3 separate regions of the Homo sapiens genome follow, and all the other regions are linked to region 1. Evidence: fine-mapped expression QTL. A gene starts in region 1. Each other region holds a variant in brackets. All regions are shown on one strand. Distances are from middle to middle.

Region 1 (8,102 bases):
GACGGGCAGCCTGTGGTGGAGCGCTGGATTTCGGATGAGGAGGATGAAGCCTCAAGCGATGAGGAGTTCCCAGAGCTGAGTGGCCCATTCTGCTCAGAACGAGGTGACCCTGCTTTCCAAGGTTTTCAGCCTCCCCAGAGCCCACCTCTGCCCTGTGGGACATGAGGGAAGCTAAGGTGGCAGTGGCGTCCGGGGAGGGGAGCCCCAAGTTCAGATCAACATCTGGGCCAGAGCCAGGTGTCAGTCCTGGGCCCCAGCCTCAGGCTCCTTCCCACAAGGGACAAGGGGCCAGCCAGAGACTTCCCTGAGCCCAGGGACCCTCCTGCTGAGCCCAGGGCTCCACCCACCCTGTACCCTCCACCCCCGGCCCCTCCCAGGCTTCCTCAAGGAGCTGGAGCAGGAGCTGAGCAGGCACAGGGAGCACCGGCAACAGACGGCCCTGACAGAGCACCTGCTGAGGATGGAGATGCAGCCCACCCTCACCGACCTGCCCCTGCTACCTGGGGTGCCCATGGCTGGGGACAGCAGCCCTTCTGCCACTCCTGCGCAAGGGGAGGAGACAGTCCCTGAGGCCGTCTCCTCACCCCAGGCCTCCTCTCCCACCAAGAAACCATGCAGTCTGATTCCCAGGGGCCACCAAAGCTCTTTCTGGGGAAGGAAGGGGGCACGAGCAGCCACAGCCCCCAAGGCCTCTGTGGCTGAGGCCCCCAGCACAACCAAAACTACGGCCAAGAGAAGCAAGAAATGATTCTCTGTCAACCTTTCTCTACTAGTGGAGAGGAGTGGGGCCTGCCCCTCTTCTCAGACCTCTGACCTGTGACAGAAGCCCATCCCCAGTAAAGTGTCTCTAGGCCCTGAGTATGCTTTTCATGTCACTTGGGGTATCTCAGGGGAAGAAACCAGTGAAAGCTCCAGGAAACAAAATACAGAGCTCAGTGAGCCACCTGATTCTAAAGAGCGAGTCTGGAATCTTTCGGGAGCTACCCACAGGGCAGGCATGCCTCAGGCCCCCGCTGGCTTCCTGGCTCCCACTTGGGCAGGAAGCGGGCACCACCTCATGGAAGAGGCATGCCATCTCACTGCCACCCCTAGCGAGTGCCCTTCCCCGGTCCAAGCCAAGGACCAAGGAGCTGTGGTCCTAGTCATCCCCAACAGCAGCCAGCTCCTGTCCCCTCCCTGTCCTCCTGCCCAGTCCCCATCACTCACCCACTCATAGGAATGAGTACACAACCACAGGCCCCGCAGCCAGCCCACAGCTGCCTTTGGGCCTCACTTGGCTCTCCCACCCCCACTGGTCCTGGGATAAAGTTCACTGAAGAGAAAATAAAGCACATTTATTAAGGCAAAGGCCAAGCTGGCCGCTCAGAACATGGCCAAGGAGCGTGAAGGGATTGCTCCACTTTACCACCACTCAGGGCACCCAGGCCCCAGGGGTCCTGGGTCCACCCCAGGCCAGCAGAAGCTATGAAGCTTACGCATAAGCCTGGCTCTCCCTCTTCACGAAGGCCTGGAAGAGGCTGCCCAGCTCCCAGAGGGGTGGGGCCCACTCGCCGGCCAGCAGCCCCTGTGTGGCCTCGAGGCCTTCCTGCTCCAGATCCTGCTGTTTCTGCTGGAGCTGCTGCCCCCGATCCTGCCCCAAGGGAAAGCTGAGATGAGTCTGTCCGGGACAGGCTTCCCGCCAGGTGAAGGGGGGACTGTGTACCACCTCACACAAGCAGGAGAAAGGAGATACCCCCCGACATTCCCCAAAGGCAGTTGCTGGCTTTGAAGGGAGGAACTCCTCTCCCCAGCTCTGAAATCTCTTCCACTCCCTAGTTCCTTCATATTTCCAGAGTCCCACTGGGAGTGGGGGAGGTCTATCATCCCCTCAAGGTAGCCCCTACTCCCTGGGGGATACCTGATCTCTCTCCATCAGCCCCAGGGCTGCCTGGTGTCCACGGTAGAGGGTATGCCGACGATCTACCTGAGTCTGGAATCGGGGCAGGGTCCGAACAGGGTCTTGTGCTCCAAAAGTGGGGGACAGCACCTGGGGGGCCTGGGCCACCCCCATCCCGAAGATGAAAGGTTTGAACACAGACCTAGAGGGGCACAGATGGAAGCACGGAGATATATCAGATCCTCTCTTCTCCCCAGCCTTCCCCACCCTCATTCTTCCCACCTGGATGGGTCTGGCGTGGCGGTAAGAAAGTGCACGCAGGGCTGCGTGGGATCCTGGGGCAGGACAGACACCATGCTGGCCGTGGTGCGAAAGCCTCCCGAGTCCATACAGATACCACTCTCCTTGTCTCTGAGGATGCCCATCATCACCTCTGCCGTGATGCCCCCTGCCAAGGAGTAGAGGGGGAAGCTGTGGGAGGGGAGAGTGGCTGGCACTGCTGTGGCCCTCCTGGCCCCCAGCCCCCTCCACCGTTCACTAACCTTGCCGTTGCCGCAGCAGCTCCCGCCCTGCCTGGAAGCGGGCCTTGGCAGCCTCCATGCGCACAGGCTGCTGGGTCAGGGAGAAGATCTGAGCAAAGTCAAAGGCACCCTGCCCATCCCACCAGCCCTTGGCCTGGGCATGAGTCCGCAGCTCCGGGTGTTGGGCCGAGATGTCCGTGCCAATGCTCAGCTGGTTGGAGATGTTGCGGGCCCCCTCTGTGGAGGAGATCGGGGAGTGGTTCATTTACCATTGAGCATCTATTCTATGCCAGGCACTGGGCGAGGTGCTGAGAACATGGTGGAGAAGAGAACTACCTACCCTCATGGAGCCTACGTTTTGGTGGGGGAGGCAGACAAAATAATCACAGAGATAAATGTAAGCATGCAACTGTGTTGAATGCGATGAAAAAGAAGTACCTGCTTGCATATAAGCAGGAAACCTGACCACCCAGGGAAGTCCAGGAAGGCTTCCCAGAGGAAGCAACAGGCTGTAGCACACGGAAGACTTAACCAAGTGAAGGGGAGGAGAATTCCCAAGTGGGCTCATCTCCCATCTCCCTGGATGTCCTGACAGGCTTGCACCTGGATCGGGCCCCTCCCTGCCCCTACCATCTCTCCCACTTCCCAAAGCTGGGAGAAAGGGAACACCTCACCCTGGATCCTCTGTGCAGCCCAGAGCCTCCCAGCTGTCTCCAGCACCCACGCCTCAGTGCGGTCAGCCAGCAGGAAGGTGCTATGGTAGGAGAATGGCGCAGCATCCTCCAGGCAGTTGCCCCCCTGCCCATAGTGCTCCAGTAACCCTGTGATCACATGCAAGGCCTCCTGGGCAGAGCTGCTCCGTTCCAAAGCCAGCCTGGCAAAAGAGAGGGCCAAGGGACAGAAGGGTGACAGAGGGATCAATGGCTGGTGGCAGAAGCTCCAGGGGACAGAAGAGGCCCGGAGAGGTTTGGTGATAGGCCCAAGTCACACAGCAAATCTGCTGGCACTGATCGTATCAAATGCAATTATGCCAGTGGCTTTCAATGCTCTGGTTCCATGTGCTATGCTTTGAGGGTTCCATGAAAAGGCCTGAAACACAGTTTCAGAGAGAGAAGTGTCCTGAGCCCCTAACCTCTCTCCACCCAGAGCTGCTCCATCCACTATTACTGGTTTTATAAATTGGGACTCTATGTAAGATTTCAACTGAAAATAAATAAATAACCACTGCTCTATTTCTGGGCCAGGAGAGGCCCAAAGGTGGCTGCTGCTGCAGCCTTCTTCACGAAGGCACAAGGGCAAAGTCTGCAGAGAGGAGGAGGCCCCTGTGAACCAGGCTGGGGGAGGGATGGATGGGCCCAGGTCAAAACTCAGCCCCTAGATTTCTGGTGTGTCAGGCAGATGAGGAAGGGCAGGGTCTGCACCTGAGTAGGTCCATGCCCAGCAGGGCTTCCCCCTCCCCAACTGGCTCCTTCGTCCACACAGCCTCGTTGCCAATGCAGACACCATGCTCGTTGGCGCCCATCTCAGCCCCCCATAGCCAAGAAGGACGGCTCAGAATCACAGCGTGCGTCTTCGACACCTGTTCCACTTCAATGTAGGTGCACTGGAGGTGAGGGAGGAGAAAGGAAGCGTCCACTCATAGAGGGGCGGCCCCTCGAGTGTGGCACTCTGCCAATTACCTTATAGATCCCTTTGAGGAAGGTCTCATTCCCATTTTACAGAAGAGGAAACTGAGGTAGACTGAGGCTACATAATGAGCTCAGGTCCAGGTTGGTAGACCTAAAGCTCATGCTCTTCCACTACTTCTGGCAGCCTCCCAGGTGTGGGGAGCAGGGAAGAAGGTCTTAAAAGAATGCAGAGATCTGCCACACCTCCCAGCACCCCATAAAGTCTAACCCACCTGGAGCCGGCTCCCAGGAGTGTGAGTGCCTGCGGGGACAAACACCACCTCCTGCACCTCGTCCCGGGGTCGGTCCGAGTTCTTGGCAAAGATCACAGCCGGGATGGCTGAGGCCGGGGGCACGGAGACAAAGCAGTCGCAGGAACATGGGGAGTCAGGGCTCGACGACGCCATCTGGGGAGAGGCGGGCCTCTCCATAACCCTGGCCACGGCTCAGCCCCGAGGAGCAGCCTACCCCCACACGTGTAAAAGACGCGCAAGGAAGACACCGCCGTGGCTCCTGGACGCTCGGCGCACACACCATGGACGGGTGTGCGGGAACGGAGGTGCCCACCCTCTCCCCAGGCTCCAGGCTTGGGAGTCCGCAGGCGGGCACTCCGGGGGTCCCGCCCCCACTGGGAGTCCCGGCCCTTCGGAGCAGTCGTGGGACCGTCCCCCTCGCTACCCCACCAAGAGTCCTGCGGCCCTGCGCATGCCCAGATACCCGACCCTCTTCTGTCCAACCCTTCTCTCACCCCCAGTACTGTATTCCCCTCACCCTCTCTTCCTCCAAGACCCCAGCTCGGTCCCGGGTGCCACCTCCTCCGCTTCTGGCCAGGGCCGCCCCATTGGGCGGAGACTCTCAGGTGACCTGGAAGGCCTTCGGCCTCGGGGTCGGAGCCGGAACGGAGCCTGCAGCTCCGCCGTTTTCCACCAGGGCGCGCGCCTGCACCACTTCCCGGAGCAGAGCGGCCTTGCGAGTCCCACCTGGCTCCCTGTCCTACCCAGGCGCCCATTTGAGGCCTGACAAAGGCTGCTAACCCCACGGAGTCACTGCGGGGAGCTGGAGCTGGGGGTGGAAAGGATCCCGCGTGAAAAGGGAGACTTTGTCAGAGAAAGGGGACTGCTGGGACATCTGGAGATTAAGGAAGAACCTCAGATACTTGAGTCCTGGTTTGAATCCCAGAGGCGCAATCCCAGGCTGGAGGCGCCTAGGGGAATAAGATACAGAATACGAGAGTGGTGGAGGCTGGGTGCGGGGGGCTCGCACCTGTAATCCCAGCACTCTGGGAGGCGGTGGTGGGAGGATCACTTGAACCCAGGAGTTCAACACCAGCCTGGGTAACACAGCAAGACCTCGCCTCTACAGAAAATATTTTAAAATTAGCTGGGCGTGGTGGTGCGTGCCTCTAGTCCCAGCTGCTCTGAAGGCTGAGGTGGGAGGATCTCTTGAGCCAGAGAGATTGAGGCTGCAGTGAGCCAAGATCACACCGCGGTACTCCAGCCGCGGTGACAGAGCAAGACCCTGTCTCTTAAAATAAATAAATAAGGGAAAGTGTGCACAAAACCCATCTGATCCCAGAGGACCTATCTGTCTGATAGTGCTCAAACCCATAGGAAGATCGCTTTAAAGGGAAATTTAGAACTTTCTAGTTCAAAGATTTGGTGCCTTTACCTGTAGTGAAACTGAAACCACAAAGAAGTCTTGGCCAAAGGTGACACACAGTCATGTGGAGGTACACTCTGATCCCAAATGTTTTGATTTTCAGTTCATTTTTCTCTACAAACCATCTCTCCATAGCCATCATTAAGACAAATGCATCTTACACCCTTTTGCTCTGTGGAGCCCTCCAGAATGGAGAGAGGGGAGATGCTGCAGGTTATCTGCTTCTAGGGGTTGCACTGAATCTATAGATGGCTTTGAGTAGTATGCACATTTTAGCAATAGTAATTCTTCCAATCCGTGAGCATGAAATATCTTTCCATGTCTTTGTGTCTTCTTCAGTTTCTTTCATCAATATCTTATTTTCAGAGTACAGATCTTTCACCTCTTTGGTTAAATTTATTCCTAAATATTTTATTATTTTGGTAGCTATTGTAAATGGGACTATTTTCTTGATTTCTTTTTTGTATAGTTTGTTATTAGTGTATAGGAACACTATTGACTTTTGTACATTGACCTTGTATCCTCTGACTTTACTGTATTTGCTTAACAATTCTAACAGTGGGCCGGGTGTGGTGGCTCATGCCTGTAATCCTAGCACTTTGGGAGGCTGAGGTGGGCGGATCCCCTGAGGTTGGGAGTTCAAGACCAGCCTGGCTCACGTGGAGAAACCCCATCTGTACTAAAAATACAAAATTAGCCAGGCGTGGTGGCACATGCCTGCAATCCCAGCTACTTGGGAAGACTGAGGCAGGAGAATCGATTGAACCTGGGAGGCGGAGGTTGCGGTGAGCTGAGATCGCGCCATTGCACTCCAGCCTGGGCAACAAGAGCAAAACTCCGTCTCAAAAAAAAAAAAAAGAAAGAAAGAAAGAAAGAAAACAATTCTAACAGTGTTTTAGTGGAGTTTGGCCTTCTTTCAAGCCTACTGTGCTAGGGTGCTGGCGGTCAGTCATGCTAGGATTAATGGGAAGGTGAAGGCTGTTTCTGATACAGTGTCGGGGAGGGATTGTGAGGTTGCCAATTAATGTCATTCCAGAAGCAAACATCGAAGCTGCGTGCTGAGAAATCTGGGCACCTGAAGCAGCTTGCAGGAAGGCGGGTTCATCTCCTGCAGTTTCCCGGCTTCCCACTGTGGGGCGGAAACAGGCAGGAGGAGAGGCAGAGAGAGGCCACAGCGCACCCCCAGGTTGCAGTTTCCAGGCTGTCTTCTTCTCTGTCACTTTCTCATTTCTTATTTCATTCACCCACCCTAGAGGTTAGGAGTAGATTCTACTTCCACTTCCCAGGAGAGGAACCCAGAGAGCCAGCCCAGATGTTCTGATTTCCCTAACCCTTTCCTGGGCCATCCATGATCCTCCTGCCAGGCACCCCATCTGAGGGGGGTCAGAGGTGGCTTTGGGTTCCGTCGTGGGGGGGATGGGGGGCAGGCCAGCCAGGCAGCATTTCCAGCAAGGAAGCAAGTGTCAGAGCCCCACCAAAGGCCCCTGCTAAGAATGCAGGTCAGCGGGAGGAGCTGCATGGGGAGGAGGGGTGGCCCCAGCCCTGCCCAGACAGGCCCAGCCGGCCGCACAGCTGCCCTCCTGTCCCTGGGGGCAGCGATGGGGGTAAAGGAGGAGGGGACTCACCAAGTTCCTGGGGTCTAACTCCCCTAGAACCAGGAAGACAAAAGAGGCACCTGGAGGAGTGGGGCTGGCATAAGGTCTTAGGAAAACACACCTGTCCTTCCTCCTCCCAGCCTTCTAAATCTAGCAGCAGGTGGAAACAAAACAATTGGCCCCAAACCAGTCTGGTTTCCTCTACAACCCCTAAATCATTCATTCTGATGCCCCTATCCTAAGGTAGCCATAAAGGTTGTGACCCCAGGATCCCAAATTAAGTTATGGGATGGGCCAGCCTGAGTACCAGATTTGGCTTCGAGAAATTGGGTTAGGGTTAGAGTGGTGGATCTAGAAATCCCACTAGGGGAAAATAATACTTTTGGCAAAAAGGTAGAATGAGAAGGTGAAAGAACATAGTAACCCCCGCCCCCCAGCCCCCTTGGAGCCCAAAACCTATCTTCTGTCAACCTTCCTGGCTTTGGGGCTCTGGAATCATGAGGCTTTCTACTCATTTGATGTGAATTAGGCACCAACTTTGTATCAAGCACTGGGAGGCCTGGGAAGATGTGTACAGATAGATATTTCTGCATATCTCTGGGGGCGGGTGCACGTGGGTCCAGTGCGGGTATGTTTGTGTGCCTTGTGGTTGTGTAACCATGGTGGGTCTCTAGCTGTGAGCTACAGTAGGAGCCTTTCCCTCATACTTTCCAGCTGGGCAGGAGCCCATCAGATAGCTCGGCTGCCTTTCATCGCCTTGTCCCTGATAAGGATCATCCTGGGT
Region 2 (8,214 bases), 330 kb after region 1:
GCCTAGCCTTGTATTTTTAAATGTGAAAATGGTTCCTGAATCTGGATTTTCATTTAAAACTTTTCCTAACAATTATGAATAAATGGGAATTTATATTGTGAGGGAGCCATGGGAAGTGTATGACATGGAATAATTCTGTTTATGGTGACTAAATCAAGAATGAAAAAATTGACTTTCTATTTAAGCCCCACACTTTCTGTCCTTACCTTGCTCAGAATACGGATGAGGTCACCCCGTTGGAAGGACAGTTCATCTGGCTGGTCACCATGGCAATCCCATAGGCCCTGGTAGTAACTGGCATAGTCTACTGATCAAAGAGAGGAGAAATCAAAGTTAAAAGGACTCTATTTTTTCCGAGGTACCCATGTTTTTGCTGCAAATGGAAACCAGGGTTCTGATATTGCCCCTAGGAAACCTCAGATTAAGGGGAGTTGAGATGAGATACAGCCAAACACTCAGCATGAGCAAAGGACTATGGGAGAAGGAGATCATTAACTAACATTAAATATTTACAGATCACTCCTAGTAGGATGCCGTTCAACAATATGATAAATATATTTATTTATTAATAAAAGAAAATCAGGCAGGTAATTTTTCACTTGGTTTGTAAGTAAGCAGTGCAGAGGTTTCCCGCCAGACTTTCCTGATCCAGGGCAACTAACTATCTAGTTTTTCTCTTCATTATGCATTTGAAGGATCAGAGTAAATCTGTGACTTCTGCCTATTTACAAGAAAGGCTTAGTCAGCCAGCAGGCTTCTGGATCACAGCTCACTTTTCGGCCTTCTTTGTCCATAGGAACTTTGTCCTGGGAACTTCCCACCTAGGTACTATATGAGGTAATCACCAATAAATACTGAAACGAATAGCCCAGTCTTTAAGTGGAACCAAGGGGGTGTCTCATCCATTACAACTAAATTCTGGGTGGGCTGGCCCTTTTCCAGCATCTCATTTGTAGACCTTGAACATGTCTGCCAAGATTTATCTGCAAGCCCCAGGGGAACAGAAACCAAAGTGATCTGCATTAAAAATGAAAGCAACTGAAGACGACAAACCAAGCTTTAGAAGCAGCTGGAGAGATTTACTGAGCTTCTCAGCAGAACTAGATGGCAATGATGCCACAGGACAGCCATCGATTCTTAACAATGAAGAATTTGTATTGATCTTCTACCCGGAAAGGTTAAACACTAGAGTACAAAGTGGGAGAGGATCTGGGGATTTGAATGGCAGGAGAGCTAATGCCCACTAGACCAGGCATGCTCCTTTTTCCTTGGGGTGCTCTGTATCAGAGCTGTGAACAAAGCACCTACAAAAGATGAAATTCAATAGATGGGAGTCAGGAGTCCTGGGTTCTAATTAAAATTCACATGATTTTGGGGGACTCTGTTCTATAGATTTCCACCTTTCCCTTTATTCATTTTACCCTCCCATGAGCAGTGATAGTATTGGTGGCTGAGGATAGGGCAAGTGGGCAGTAGGGGCACAGACACCCTCCCTATATTTGCTTTTTTTCTACTTATTCCTGACTTACGAGCAATTTAAATAATAAAGGCACGGAGGGACAAAATCCCTATATGTCTCTGGAAGAGAATTTTGGTAGGAATCTTAAAGGGTACAAAAACAGAGGAGGGAGAGAACTATTTAGTTAAAACTCAGATATTGCAAACAAAAGTAAAAATGTCAACCATATAGAAATTCAGGCATGTTTTCTTCACACATAAAATTGTCTGTGTGTGCAGTAGACAACAGAGGGCAGCAAACAAGATAACTACTGTGAAAACATTCTGCCACAGAGTTGATAATATGTTTGGAAGAAAAATACTTTGGGAGAAATATGTTAGTTATTGAATAGACAAAGCATTCATTTTTGGAAATATTAAGTACATGAAATAATAGAGAAATATCAATCCCTGAAAAGTGAAAGTAGTTTTCCCAGAGGATATATTATGAATTTTCCATTTTAATGGAGTTGATTAATTACCCCAAGATTTTGACTAAACTCAGGAATGAAAGAATATTAACATCAATATTTTTCATGGATTTATATATGGTAGAGAAAACCATTTTTGTAAAAATAGATTCTAAAACCATAACAATATTTCTAAGTGGTAAGGAGACTAACAAGGTTATCTTGGTCTTTTCTGGCCTAGCAGATAGTCACTTTGGAGTACGGTTCCCTACTGTGTGCCTGGATATGGGATAGGTCCTAATATTGAGTGCCTTTTTGGTGTATACATAAAAAGTGATTTGACATTGGGTATATATGGGCCTGGGAGAACATCTGGAAAAAGATCTATTCTAAAAGCACAAAAGATCACAGGGAAAGCAAGAAGCTAGGAGAAAAACAGAAGCCTTCCAGGAAAAAAATAAAGATAGAAAAGGTCTTTGATATTAAAGGCCAAAAGAAGACAGAGTTCAGGAATCCAGGAGATGGTTTAGCTCAGCCCAAGAATAGGGAACTTCAGTCAGAAGTAGAACAGCTCCAAAAAAACAGGCAGAATGAAGGGCTAAAAACTGGGAAAAGTTTGAACTTGCTAGCTAGCTAGAAGTATTCTCTATTAAGGAAATCAGTGAGGGATAATTCCTTAGCTGGGCAAGGTGACTCCATATTGCAGACTTCCTGTTTAACACACATGTGATATGCATTTATGTGTATGTGTGCATGCAACTTCACTAATTCATTCTCATCATCCAACAGACATGTATACAGTACCTACTAAATGCCAGGGACTGTGTTAGATACTGGGAATCCCACATTGGCCACACATGAGCCCTCCTCTCAAGGGTACCTTCTAGTCGGGGAAGCACCATGGAAAAAACAGTTACACAAATGTTTATTTATGATTATGATATGTCTGTGAAGGAGAAGTTGAGGACGCTGTGTGTAATAGGGAATCTAACATAGTTTGAGGGGTCAGAAAAGGCTTTTCTGGCCAAGTGGGTGTTAAAGACCTTGAAGAGGGGAAGAGATAAGTTGGAGGAGGGCTTCATTCCTGAAGCTTGGCACCAGGAAGAGCTTAAAAGCCCAGAGTCTGCAGGGCTAGTCCAGCTTCTCCCTAAACCTGCCCAACTCATCCTATAAACAAGAGAATGCATGAGGAGACTTTGCTTTCTTTTCTTTTCTTTCTTTCTTTCTTTCTTTCTTTTTTTTTTTTTTGAGGCGAAGTTTTGCTCCTTTTGCCCAGGGTGGAGTGTAATGGCATGATCTCGGCTCACCACAACCTCTGCCTCCTGGGTTCAAGGGATTCTCCTGCCTCAGCCTCCCGGGTAGCTGGGATTACAGGCACGTGCCACCACGCCCAGCTAATTTTGTATTTTTAGTAGAGACGGGG[T/C]TTCTCCATGTTGGTCATGCTGGTCTTGAACTCCCGACCTCAGGTGATCCGCCCACCTCGGTCTCCTAAAGTGTTGGGATTACAGGCATGAACCACTGTGCCCGGCCGACTTTGATTTCTGTAGAGCAGAGAGAGGAACTGAGAGCCCAAGGGTGAGGCTTGCCTCTATGGGCTGGATTTAGATTCCTTTAGGCTTACACTACTCTGGCAGCCGTCTGAAATCAGAAATGGTGCAGCATTCTGACCATTTAATTAATTCAAAACATCCTAATTCTCATTTTAAGGACATTATTCCATCTAATTATTTTTTTTCCAGTCTGTCCATTTGGAATGAAAAACAAAAGAATAAAGCTTAATGCCAGCATTTCTCAATGTCTCTCCGAAAAACATAACTCTGCACTAAATAAAGCCTGGTAATTCAAAAGCAAAGCACTAATATATTCAGCATAAAACAGACAGAGGACCTAGAGCAATAATGACACCACTAATAACTAAAACAGTTATAACAATTAACAACAATTACAATGATAGAGAAGCTAATGGGTATGATCACTGCATTTAAATTGCTAGCAGAGCTGAGAAGGGCTTTTTCTAGAGAAAAAAAAGCAGCATCTTACTCTCTTTATCCTATGTAAGGGAAGCTAAACTCCAAGCAACCAAAATGTCATAAGAAGAATAGCAACAGAACAAGTTAAAAAAAAGTATTGGTTTCTTTTTTCTATTTATTGCAAAGCATTTGTCATTGCATGCCAGGTTCTTTACAACTAGTGACAGTCATTTCTCTTGTAACTGAGGCCAAGTTGGTGCTACTGATGATAGAGTCAATGGCTGAAAATTAGCCTGTGTGACGAGCAAAGTTTTAAGGTAAAAAGGACCAGGACATCTCTCTGCCTTTCTCCTTCCTTAGGGACAATAAAATCTGACTGTTCCTTCCACAGTTCAGCTTATGTTTGGGAGTCACTGGGTAGCGACAGAATTCAGGCTGTGATCAGGGAAAAGTGGCTAAAGGCAGGCCAGCATGTTATTTACATTTTCTTGATTACTAAAATGATCGTGTCAATAAGGCCTGGCATTGAGTACAACCTCTTAAGTTATGGAAAAGAGAGACAAAACATGAAGATGGATAAAGCCAGTCCTACGAGAGGATGGGATGGTAAGACTTGGACAAAAAACGCCAAAGTAGTGACCCATTGGAAGTGACTTGAAATGTTCTTTAAGCCAGGTCAGAAAGGTCTAACATGTTGAGTTCATTCAAGTAAACTCTGACAATTTTTCCTTTTTTTTTTTTCTGAAATAGGGTCTTGCTCTGTCACCCAGGCTGAAGTGCAGTGGCACAATCATAGCTCACTGCAGCCTCGAACTCCTGGGCTCAAGCTATCTTCCCCCTGCAGCCTCCTGAGTAGCTGGGACTACAGGTGCATGCCACCACACCCAGCTAATCTTTTTAATTTTTTGAAAACACAGGGTCTCACTTTGTTGCCCAGGTTGATCTCAAACTCCTGGGCTCAAGCAATTCTCCCATCTTCGCCTCCCAAAGTGCTGGAATTACAGATGTGAGTTACTGCGCCCAGCCTTGATAGTTTATTAACTATTTCAGAAGAAAGCTATGAAAATATTTGCCAAGCCCCCAATGACTGTGGCACCAGAGGAGGAAGAGCAATTGGATAATACCATTTGCTTATTTCATAGCCCTTTAATCTTGAGTTTTGAAATTACTATGATCTTAGTGGTATAAGTATGATTTGGAAGTGGGGTATACTCAGATTCTGATTTTCATGTCATTTCCTCTTTTCATTGGGCCATAATTTTAGCTGGTTAATAATCAGCTCATGTTTGGTCTTGGAAAACAGGCTTCAAAAGGTAAGAGCTGCAAACACCTCTGTGGTTTCCCTTTGTTTCTTTCATGTAGTAGTTCACTCTATTGGCGCGCACTAAAGTGAGAAGGGGGCCTCAGAGATGGAATGGTATAAGCAACCATTTTTTGGCCCTCCTAAAAGCAATCATTTGCTTATAAGACCACAATAGTGTGGTCTGTGTCTCCTTTTGGCTTAGTTTTTCCACAATTTCAGAGTTGGGGTTGGGGGCAGACTGAAGGAGGTACGGGTGGGAGGGGTCTGTTTCAGGTTTTCCTTGGTCAGGGATTTTATGTATCTAAGGATGATTTGTGCCTCCAGGGTTGCTTTTTATTTGACATAGCACATGCAAACAAATGGCCAGTAATTTCTATAAAAAACGAACACAGAGGAAGTTTTATTTTTGGTTACCTGGAGGTTACCTTTTCATGATAGGGAAAGGTGATAAGTTCTCATTACCTAAGACCCTTAATGTTAGACTACTGGGCTGATGGGTTGGAATTTAGTGAAACTCTGAGGTGTTGAAGAGTCACTCATTAAAATAACCCTGTTACTAACAGTCATGCTGTAAACTGAGCTCTTTATAGATTGAGCAATCAATACTACAAGGCTGTGATAGATTTTCTAGGTAACAGAATGAAATAAAAGAAATTACATCTTACAGGGTCATTAACACTCAATAAGGATGAACCGAATCCCTTCCCCCCTATTCTGATAAGATCTAGTTAGGCCTTCAGAATGTTAGCAATTCCATCAGAGAAAAAAGCACAGCATTCAAGGAACAGGATCCATCGAGGTTGGAGAAAAGTACTTGGATTTTAAAAGTAACTCTGCTAGCCATAGCATCTTTTGGGAAAAAAGGAAGAAGGGAAAGGTCAACTTGCTTATATATATTTTTCTCCCCAAAAGCATGTTAACACCTGAGAAAAGGCTGGGCGTGGTGGCTCATGCCTGTAATCCCAGCACTTTGGGAGGCCAAGACGGTCGGATCCCCTGAGGTCAGGAGTTCCAGACCAGCCTGGCCAGCATGGTGAAACCCTGTCTCTACTAAAAGTACAAAAATTAGCCAGGCGTGGTGGCACGTGCCTGTGATCCCAGCTACTCGGGAAGCTGAGGCAGAAGAATCACTTGAACCTGGGAGGCAGAGGTTGCAGTGAGCGGAGATAGCGCCATTGCACTCCAGCCTGGACAACAGAGCGAGACTTCATCTCAAAAAACAAACAAACAAACAAAAAAACACACACCTGAGAAAAACTAAGTAGCCCAAACTTGTGTAGCTTGTCTATGACATAGGAATTCACACTGTCCTAGAGCTCCCTGCCTTTTAAATGCCTTCACTGGGGCTGCCTGCCCTTCCCCCAGACCTCTATCTTTTATTGTTACAAAACTAAATGATGACATTTGGATTTATGTATTTTTCACCATTTCTATAGCGCCTTTGGAGAAAAGGCAGTATATAAAATCAATCGATAAATAAGTAAACACAAATAATAAAAATTCCTGCCTCAGATTCTGCAGAGAGAGCAAAAAGTCCTCCTGTTTTTTAATCACTAAGTCACCAATCATTATAACTGGTGGGAAGTGTAAACCATAGAAACATATTCAGAGCTTGCTATACTTTAACAACACTTATTTTGGAGGCAGGAAGCATGAGGAACAAAAGGTTTTTTTTTTTTTAAACCTACTTGAATTATAGCTGTAGGAACAGTTAAGAAATAAATCTCCTCTCACCTCCCAGATATAACCTTAGAGAAAGAGGTGGAAGGAGGAAATGAGATGAGGGAGGAGTCTGAAACTGGATTCTAGACTTTGCTAAAAGATCAATGCTTTCTGAATGGAGTTTAATATGAAATTGGCCATAGGAAGCTTACAGTTACTCCACCCAAGCTGTCCACATGAAGTGTTTCTTTTCTGCACTGGTGATGGAAGTTGGTTGAGAAAAGATATATGTGGAACATGGGCGGGTCAGAACAGATTTTCATTTGGAATTCTGTACAGTAAGTAGACAACAGAAGGAAATAGGTTTCAGAATGGACCTAATCACATGTGTTCACTATCATGAGGTACTTGCAGCTACACTCACATCCGTGCATCACACCCGCCTCCACTGCTTTCTTTCTCTCCTGCTTTGGCGCATGACTTCTGAGGCTGCATCTTCGTTGTCTCTTCTCTTCCCTGGGAGAAGCTGGACCCTTAGGAAGTTGGGTCCTGAACCTTTTAAGTATTCACTTTCTGTAGAGAATGAACCTAGAAATGGGGGTTTTGCTGGATGGATAAGGAGAGAAGAAAAAGCACAAGGAAAGGAGAGAGGAGAATAGGAAAAGACAGGGCTAGATAATGGAGAAGGAGCAGGGAGGGAAAGAGGGCAAGAATTCCTAGGCTTAAGATTTTCATAGACTCCCTAAGAAAAATATCAGCCAGTATCTAAATCAGTCATGATTAGGGCTCTGCCGACGGAACGAATGTCCTTGAGGTGGCCCTTGCAATGTGCAGCATTCCTTTACTGACAACCATGGAATAGGTCCTTGGTCCACTTAAGGAGGCTTCAGAGGGGCATCTGACCTTAGAAAGGATGGGCTCACTAACAGCCTGAAGCATGGTTAACAGTCTGGGATGAATAAGATGTAATTTTATATTCAACAAACCTGTTACATATTCATTTCCAAATGTGCCTGGAATCAAACCAGGCTATCAGAAGTCAGCATCACCAAGGAATTTTATCTTTCACCCTGTGTTCACTTTTCAGATCTGACACATTTCCATTCCCCTCTGAACTTGCAATCTCCGGGCCTCTCAGAGAGGAGACATTTCCATTCTTTCCATTCTCAATCCTCTGATCTCTTAGAGATGAGGCAATTCTATTTTCACTGTACTGATATAAGAAATATTGATAGGAAAAAATAAATGTCTGGTTTGGCTTCCCACCCGCTCTAGGATAAATCTTGGCTGTTCTGGGAACATTAATTAAAGTGAATGTATGGCTGCTTTTAAAGTTTAGGTATTTCCCTACCCAGTCACTTTATTTAGGGCT
Region 3 (8,214 bases), 36 kb before region 1:
TTGTGAAGCCAGGAAAACGTTTACAGAAAAATCTAATATTATAAGAAAGAAAAATTAGTGTCCAATTTCTTTCATAAGCATAGATGCAGAGTCCACGTAAATTATTAGAAAATTGATTCCAGTGACACATAAAAGCGATAATACCTCATGACCAGGTGGGTTTATTCAAGAAATGCAAAGGTATTTGAAAATAAAATACCCTTGTGGGGCCTTCGCCGCTCCAGGCACAGGCGACCGAGGCTGCGGCATGGCACGTCCCTCCGGCTTGGGCATCTCTGGTCCTCAGGCTCTGCCCCACAGCCACTGGGCCTGCTGCACCTGAGCCAGTCTGGTTGGGTGGCCGGGCTCTGTCCCATCTGCTCCTGGGAGGCTGACTTTCACACCCGCCTGCCTGCAGGCACCTCGGGACCCATGTGTCCCCCGGCCACATCCCATCCTGGGGCCACCCTATGTCGGTCCCAGGTGTGGTACTTGGGGGCAGGTGCCATTTCTGCCCCCTCAACCTGTATTTTTGCCAGCCTGGGACTTCCTGCCCTTCCAGAACTTTCTGCCCCCTTGTAGCTGGAGATGTCTCTCCTGTGTGTGAGCTTCCCACAGCCTGAGCCTCCTTAACTGGGGAGGGGGATCAGTCACCTGACAGACACAGGATGCTCAGTTGTCTCAGGAATTGATGGTGAGAGGGACCACAGAGATAAGGGGTGCAGTCCCCTCCCCTTTGACCAATGGCAGAGCCCCCAGCCTTTCTGGGGAGACACTTTGCATCCTCCTATTTTTGGCAAAAGTCTCAGGAGAGTTAAGGCACCAATTGGTGTCTGCAGGTTCACACGCTAAACTCTGCTTCTGTCTCTCTCAGGGGGAATTGCTGCTGCCTTGGGAAGGCCCCCAGGTGTGGGAGTGGCAGAGCTGGTGGTGACCCTGGCCCAGGTCATCTGAAGCTACCCTTGTCCTGTGCTCCACAGCTAAAACAACCCTCAGTCCTCTCTGTCCTATGACAAACAAGACACCGGTGAAGGGGTAAGGCCAGCAGCATCATCCCCAAGCTACAAAGGAGGAGACTGAGGCTCAGGAGGTGAAAGGAATAAATGACAGAGCCAGGGCCAAAACTCAGGATTCCTAGCTCTTGGTCCAGGGCTCTTCCCCGCCCAGGCTGCATGGGAGGTGGTGGGAGGTGAATGTGCCAGCCTGTGAGGGCTGCGGCCCACTAGGCCCAGCTTGGAGGAGAGTGTCTCTCTTGGGCCTGTAACATCTTGCTAAATGGAGGAGAAGGGAGGGAAGGCCAATGTGACCTGCCTTCCGCATCTCCCACCTTCGCCCTCCCTCCTCAGGGTCCTAGGTCAGATGGCTTCCCACAGAACCCAAGGCTTCTCTGCTAAACTGGCACTGGCTCAATAGCTCCCTTCCTTCTTGTCCTCATTCTCATCCCTCCCAGGAGGGCACCGTGGACACTCCCTCCTTCAAACCATGTGTGCGCGCACACACACACACACACACATACACACACACACACACACACACACTTCACCCAACGTTAGCCTACAGAACTAAATGCAGGGTTTCCCATCCCAGTGTGTGACGGGCTCTGGGGTGACAGAAGCAGGAGAGGTTCTAGTGGAAACTTAGGGAAAAGACCATCTTATGAGGGCTCTGGAGGAGGGGTGTCCTGGCCAGCTGTCCTTGGGAGGGATGTCACCTGGACGTGAAGAGGCACCAGCAAAGGGGGCCTGACCTCCTTCCCCCAGACCATCTGGGCAGCTTTTGGGAGTGGCTAGGGACACCTGGGTCTCCCAGAACAGGGGTTTCCTGACTTGTGCATTCTCTTTGAAGATGAAGATGGGCAGGCAGGGATGGCCGGCAGTCCATAGGAATGCGGCTGTAACAGTGTCTGCTGCTGCTGTTGATCACTGCTGGGCTGGGTCCAGCCAGGGCCACATCCTTGGAGGCCTGATACTCCACGCAGATGGTGGTGCAGCCACCTGTCAGCTGTCAGGTGGGGCTTGGGATGAGACTAAATTGGTTCTTTCAAGAGCCCGGGGTGCCCTCTTGAGGATGCCTGGAGAATCTCACCACCTTCGTCCTAGACAGACTGTGGCTGACTCTCAGGCTTTTCTCTCTTCTTCCTGCTCCTGCCCCGGCCCTTCCAATCTCTTCTTCACCCACACCCCTCCCAGAGCCCAGCCCACCCACCTACCCTCCTCTGGACAGATGCTTCATTTTGAGGGGCCTCTCATATTAGGGGTCAGCAAGGCCCAACATCCCCAGGGGCCTGGCATCCTGGACCATAGTGCCCATGGTTTGGACTTGCTCATCAAAGCCACCCCTCCACATACCTTAGGGCCTGGAGGCATCTTTCAGCAACCTGAAGACTTTGCACCATGTGATGACATGTGTTAATGAGACGTGGGCCCTGCAAGGTGGCTCACGCCTGTAATCCCAGCACTTTAGGAGGCCAACGCTGGAAAGTTGCTTGATCCCAGGAGTTTGAGACCAGACTTGGCAACATAGTGAGACCCTATCTCTACTAAAAATTAAATAAACAAACAAAAAAAACTAGCCAGATGTGGTAATGTGCGCCTGTAGTCCTAGCTAATTGGGAGGCTGAGGCGGAAAGATTGCTGAAGCCCAGGTATTCAAGGTTGCAGTGAGCTATGATCGTGCCACTGCACTCCAGCCTGGGTTAGACCCTGTCTCTAAAAGAAGAGAGAGAGAGACACGAGTAGTGCTCTAGAACCCCCAACCGTGGAGCCATGCTCTCCCAGCCCCTGGAACCACCTGCCTGAGTCCCATGCAGACCTGACTCTGGCCTGTCGGGATCTTGATAACTCTCAGTGTTCCCCTCTGACGGTAATGCCTCTTAAGGTACAGATGAGGAGAAGATGAGGGTATGTGTGGCAAGAATCAGGAAGACCAGTCCCTGGTCCACCACATAAGGCCAGGTGATCTGGTTAAGTGTCTGTACCAGAAATAGGTCATTGGATGAGCGAGACCTGGCCCAGGCCAGCCTGTGAATGTCTCTCTGAAGTCCTACACTGCCCTCCCTGACCACCTTAAGGGGAACAGAGATGGGTCCCAGGGGGAGAGTGCTAAGCCTCTCCTCCTTTTCTACCCCTGCTAGTACTAGAGGGTCTCTAAAAGGGGAAATCACTTATAAAACGTGTCCTTTGCAGTAAGGAGACACCATTAAACTAATGACCCAATGGCAAGGTCCCTTGAGCATTCCCTAAAGAGATTGGATATGGCCGGGCAATGTAATCCAGGATCTTTAAAATGCCTGTGTCAGAACTGGGACTAGACCAGGGCAGCGTAGAATAGGAGAGCTGTGCACCATTCCAGGGGCAGACTGGAGCCGGTGGAATTGAGGTCGGACGTAAGATCTCTGCATTCTCAGCAGGTGTTGGTCAGGGGCTGGGGGTTACCCCACCACTGTCCCCACTACCTTCATTTTCCCCGAAACAGGGAGGGTGGGACTCCCCTGCACACATCCCCCTGGGCTGCATGCCATCCAGGTGAAGCTGGGAGTCACAGTGCTGGCCCAGCAGCCTCCTCCTGCCCTGAACACCCCTCCACTTTGACCTCATGGAGGGAATGTGAATGCCTGGGCCTCTCACCTGGTTCAGCACTCTTTCCCTTCTCTGTTTATTACACACACACACACAAACACACAGACACACACACACACACTTTATTCAGAAGATGCAAGGAATTGGGGGTTTTATTTATATTTGACTTTTTTTTTTTTGCTCCTTCCAACCTAGGTGTCCCTATCAGCTATTCAATAATGATTAAT[A/T]AAATTTTTTAAAGTTACTTAAATCCCTCTGGGTGGAGCAGTTTGGGGGTGGAGGGTCCAAAGAGGCAAAATGAGGACTGAGACACCTCCTGCCTACCTTCCTCTCCCTCTGCCAGCATTGCTTGGCCTGACCATTTCCCTTGCTGTCCAAGCTCCATCCTCCTTTGCTCATCCAGGGAAGCGGATCCCTGGTTCTCCAAACTACTGCACTCCAAGCCTAGTCAAGGGCCATTAAGCCCCCAAATTCTCCCCTTTGTCCCAAGCCCACCATGTCCTCCAACCAAGGCAGGAGATCTGGGTCTGTGCTTGGCTCCCCACGACCCAGTGGTAATGAGTACTCCTGTGGGACATCTGGACTAGGCTGACAGGCTTGAGAAGGGGGCCCACCATTCCCTTCTCAGATCAGTGACTTGAGCACCCCACCCTGGGATTCTTGGCAGCCAGGAGCTGGCACCGCTCCCTGAACCCCTGGCTGGTGTGGGCCCCTCACACTCTGTCCATGGAGCACAGACTGGGGCCAGAACCCCAGGCTCCCCTCAGCCTGGCCTGAGCTCCCATCAGCGGTGACCCACAAAGCCCTGGCCAGATGGGGAACATTTCTGAGACCACAGTCCTTCAGATGGGACTGCCCCCTCATCTGCTGGGCCCCAGAAGAAGCAAAAACAACCTTACCCACCACTTCCAGCTGTTGAGGTGGCACCTGGGCTGTGCCTGGGAAAGGACTTGGGGGAGGATGCTGGTCTAGAGGGCACAGCCACAGAGGCAGAGGAGTTTTGAGTTTTTTTTTTTTTTTTTTGTCTCCTCTGAAAAAATAACTTGGGAATTTGGTCTCTTTTAAACTCTGGTTCTCTCTTTTTTTTTTTTTTTTTTTTTTTCTAGATGGAGTTTCACTGTGTTGCCCAGGCTGGAATGCACTGGCACGATCTCGACTCACTGCAACCTCTGCCTCCTGGGTTCAAGCAATTCTCCTATCTCAGCCTCCCGAGTAGCTAGGATTACAGGTGTGCACCACCACACCTGGGTAATTTTTGTATTTTTAGTAGAGATGGGGTTTCACCATCTTGGCCAGGCTGGTCTTGAACTCCTGACCTCGTGATCCACCCGCCTCTGCCTCCCAAAGTGCTGGGATTACAGGTGTGAGCCACCGTGCCCAGCCTAAACTCTGGTTCTTAAAATACGTGGCAGTTTGTTACGGGCTGGTCGGTCAGGTGCTGTGGTGCTCTGAGGGGAAAGGGCCCGGAGCAGGGCAGCACATGCTATTTAAAAATATCCTGAATGTGTGAGGGCCTTGGCTTTTTTTGGAATGGGTTGAGGTTATTTCTGGCATGTGGTGACAGGACAAGTGTGTTCATTTTAACTTTGACATTCTCTGTAAATAAACTGGAAATGTGGACCACTGCTCCTCCGCAGGGGATGAGGAGGAAGAAAAAGATGACAATGCGAAGGGCTGTCGTAGCTCAGGGGTCCCCTCTGTTCCTGCCACTCTGCCACCCCCCCAAAGAAAGCATGACTTCCTCTTGGGACACTCATCGGACCAGAGCAGGACTGGGGTCGCTGTTGCTGCAGGTGGTGGGGTGGGAGTGGGGGAGAGGGGTTAAGAGAGAACGAATGAAATGAGGAGCCTGGGTCACCTCACAGATGTTCTTCTTTAAGACACAAAAGGAGCCAAATGAGAGACTGAAGCCTCTAAACAGAAGGGGAAGGCAACCTGACCAAGATCACACAGCTTCAGAATCAGAGCTGGCCCCAGGGGCGAGGGCAGCGGGGAGGAAAGGCAGCTGGTCCTGTTCTTCCTCCCTCCCTTCCGCCCTTGAACACTCATTGATCCTGGGGGGTCAAAGTGGAGTACTAGCACAGACCTGACTTAGGGTGCTGAGTGTGGGGGCCAGCACTCTGTGCCAGACAGGGGGCCAGGGGCCATGTGGTTTTTCTACCGGTTGAAGAGTTTGGATTTTCCTCTAGGCACTGGGAAGCAGGGGATGTATTTTAAGCAGACATGAGGTGTCACATTTTCTCTTGAAATACCGCCCTGGAAGCCAGGCGCGGTGGCTCATGCCTGTAATCCCAGCCATTTGGGAGGCTTAGGCGGGCAGATCACCTGAGGTCGGGAGTTTGAGACCAGCCTGACCAACATGGAGAAACCTCGTCTCTACTAAAAATACAAAATTAGCCAAGCATGGTGGCATGCATGCCTGTAATCCCAGCTGCTCAGGAGCTGAGGCAGAAGGACTGCTTGGGCCGGGGAGGCATAGTTGCGGTGAGCTGAGATCGCGCCATTGCACGCCAGCCTGGGCAACAAGAGTAAAACTCTGTCTCAAAAAAAAAAAAAAAAAGAAGAAGAAGAAGAAATACCACCCTGGAGGCCACCACAATAGTCCAGACAAGTGTTGATGAGGGCCCAGCCTAGCCAGTGCAATGGAGAGAAGGGGCCAGTGCAGAGAGACACCTGGGGTAGAAGTGACAGGGCATCAAGCGGGAGGGCAGATGGCCTCTGGGCTTTTGGCTCAGGTTAGTGGTGGCTGTATTCAATTCCTGAGGTTGCTGTAACAATGCACCACATATTGGGTGACTTAAAACAACAGAAATGTATTCTCTCATAGCTGAGGCCAGGTGTGAGCAGGGTTGGCTCCTTCTTGAGGCTCAGTGGGAGAATCTCTCTGTTTCTCTCCAAGCTTCGGGTGGTTGCCAGCAGCCTTGGCACTTTTGGCTTTCAGATGCATCGCTCCCATCTCTGCCTACGTCTCCACGTGGCCGACTCCCGTGTGTCTGTTTCACACACTTGTCTTCCCTTGCGTACGTCTGCGTGCCCAAATTTCTCTCTACTTATAAGGAGACCAGTCACTGGAGTAGGGCCACCCAAATCCAATGTGACCTCATTTTAACTTGTCTCTGCAAAGACACTATTTGCAACTAAGGTCACATGCACATGCCTGGGGGCTAGAAACGTTTCTTGGGGACACAATTCATTTTACCCATGACAGTGGCAGAGGGCTTTCCACTGACCATGAGCCCACATGTTTTTCAATGAATGGTCACAGGCCAAAGTCTGGGACAGTCTTTATTGGAGCTTGGAATGTCATAGCAATTCGCCCTCATCAGAGGCAGACTGTGAGAAAGAGCAGCGATGTGGTGGACCCCCAGCAGGGGGAAGGCGGGGCTACATGAGGGAGCCCTGCTTGCCTGCAAGCAGGGCACAGGCGCACACGCATACACTCTCCTACATGAACTTACACTCACACCTGCGCACTCGCTGCCGGTGGGTCAGAGGACAGGTGCCTTGGGCTGCTCCCCTCCTCATGGAGAGGCCTCCTCCACTCTGGGGGATCCGCTGAGCTGAGACGGGAGGGAACCGCTTGAGGATCAGGGACGAAGGAGCTGGAAGCTGCAGGCATTTTGCAGTTAGGGAGAAGGGATCCAGGACAGGAGGGATGGCCAGGGACTAACCAAAGGGAGCTGGAGAAGGCCCTGCAGGGCCAGGGAAGGGGAAGAAGATGCTGGAGATGGGCAGAAGGGGAGGGAGAACAGATCACCTCCTCTCCTTCACTCACTGCAACCTCACCGCTGGGGACAGAGGCCTGGGCACAGAAAGCCTGGGGAGCGTCAAGGAGTCCCCTGTGTCCTAGGAAGGCACTGAAATAGGGAACAGATCCTGGGAGCCAGAGTCTCCCCCAAGTACCCCAAAGGGGACAGGAATCGGAATGGTGAAGCGGGAAGGGTCTTACATGCTGGTTGTCTGGGGCAAGGAGACTGGGGAAGCACAGATTCTGCTTCTCACCCCAAACGGTGGGGTTGGGGGTGGGCTGAGATGCAGACCCTCTGGCCAGCAGAGGGGAGGGAGGGCCAGGGCTGCCCCTTTGGTCTCAAGGGCAGTGAGGCGGGGAGCCCGGCCTCACCCATGTGTCCATGGTAGGGGGTGGAGGCAGGAGGAGTGAGGAACCAGAGCCTCCTGCCCCCGGGGCCAGGGCTACCAGAGCACGGCCCCATCCATGTTCCCATAGCCTGGCTCGGCCCGCAGCCTCCAGTAGGTATTGTTGGTCACCCACCACTCTTTCCCGCTGCTATCCGTCTGCCGCCTGGTGGGAGAAGGCGGTGGCAGTGAGGGGTGAACATCTAGAAGGCAGGCTAGGGTCCTAAGGTGCTGCCTCCCACACCTGCCCTGCTCCAAGCAGGGCTCATGGGGAGACCCAGGGCGGAGGGCGAGGCCGAGGCACCTGAAGAAGCGAGCCTGGTGTACGATGTTGTTTTCCTCCATGACTTTGCGCCTGTCTCGCTGCAGCTGCTCGATCCTTCTCTTCTGGGCCTCAGCGGCCTGTATGTTCCCCTCCTCCAGGTACCTGAGGATCCAGATCAAACTCAGGGGAACTGCCCATCTGCAGGGGCCCCCAAACCCAAGGCCTCTGTCTCTGCCCAACTCTGTCCTCTAGACAAGC

Evidence for each region.
Region 2: its variant is fine-mapped to the expression of SCRN2 in whole blood (INTERVAL, PIP 0.94).
Region 3: its variant is fine-mapped to the expression of SCRN2 in whole blood (INTERVAL, PIP 0.94).

What each region holds. Positions count from the first base shown.
Region 1 is chr17:47,836,373-47,844,474 of GRCh38, forward strand. It overlaps SCRN2 (secernin 2), which reads right to left and starts at 4,901. Exons shown (of 8, transcript NM_138355.4): 1 at 4,836-4,901; 2 at 4,298-4,471; 3 at 3,819-4,000; 4 at 3,072-3,271; 5 at 2,419-2,634; 6 at 2,159-2,324; 7 at 1,898-2,078; 8 at 1,320-1,630. The coding sequence starts at 4,471. The coding sequence ends at 1,472. LRRC46 (leucine rich repeat containing 46) reads left to right here. Exons shown (of 8, transcript NM_033413.4): 7 at 1-103; 8 at 378-1,347. The coding sequence ends at 748. RefSeq lists enhancers at 363-910, 4,370-4,469, 4,373-4,928, 6,751-6,800.
Region 2 is chr17:48,162,263-48,170,476 of GRCh38, forward strand. SKAP1 (src kinase associated phosphoprotein 1) reads right to left here. Exons shown (of 13, transcript NM_003726.4): 11 at 207-307. Among named protein-coding and RNA genes, the nearest start is that of MIR1203, 9.9 kb to the left of the region's middle. The variant T/C (reference allele first, on the strand shown) is at 3,331.
Region 3 is chr17:47,800,543-47,808,756 of GRCh38, forward strand. It overlaps OSBPL7 (oxysterol binding protein like 7), which reads right to left. Exons shown (of 23, transcript NM_145798.3): 22 at 7,996-8,118; 23 at 6,830-7,857. The coding sequence ends at 7,749. Among named protein-coding and RNA genes, the nearest start is that of OSBPL7, 17 kb to the right of the region's middle. RefSeq lists an enhancer at 7,858-8,214. The variant A/T (reference allele first, on the strand shown) is at 3,785.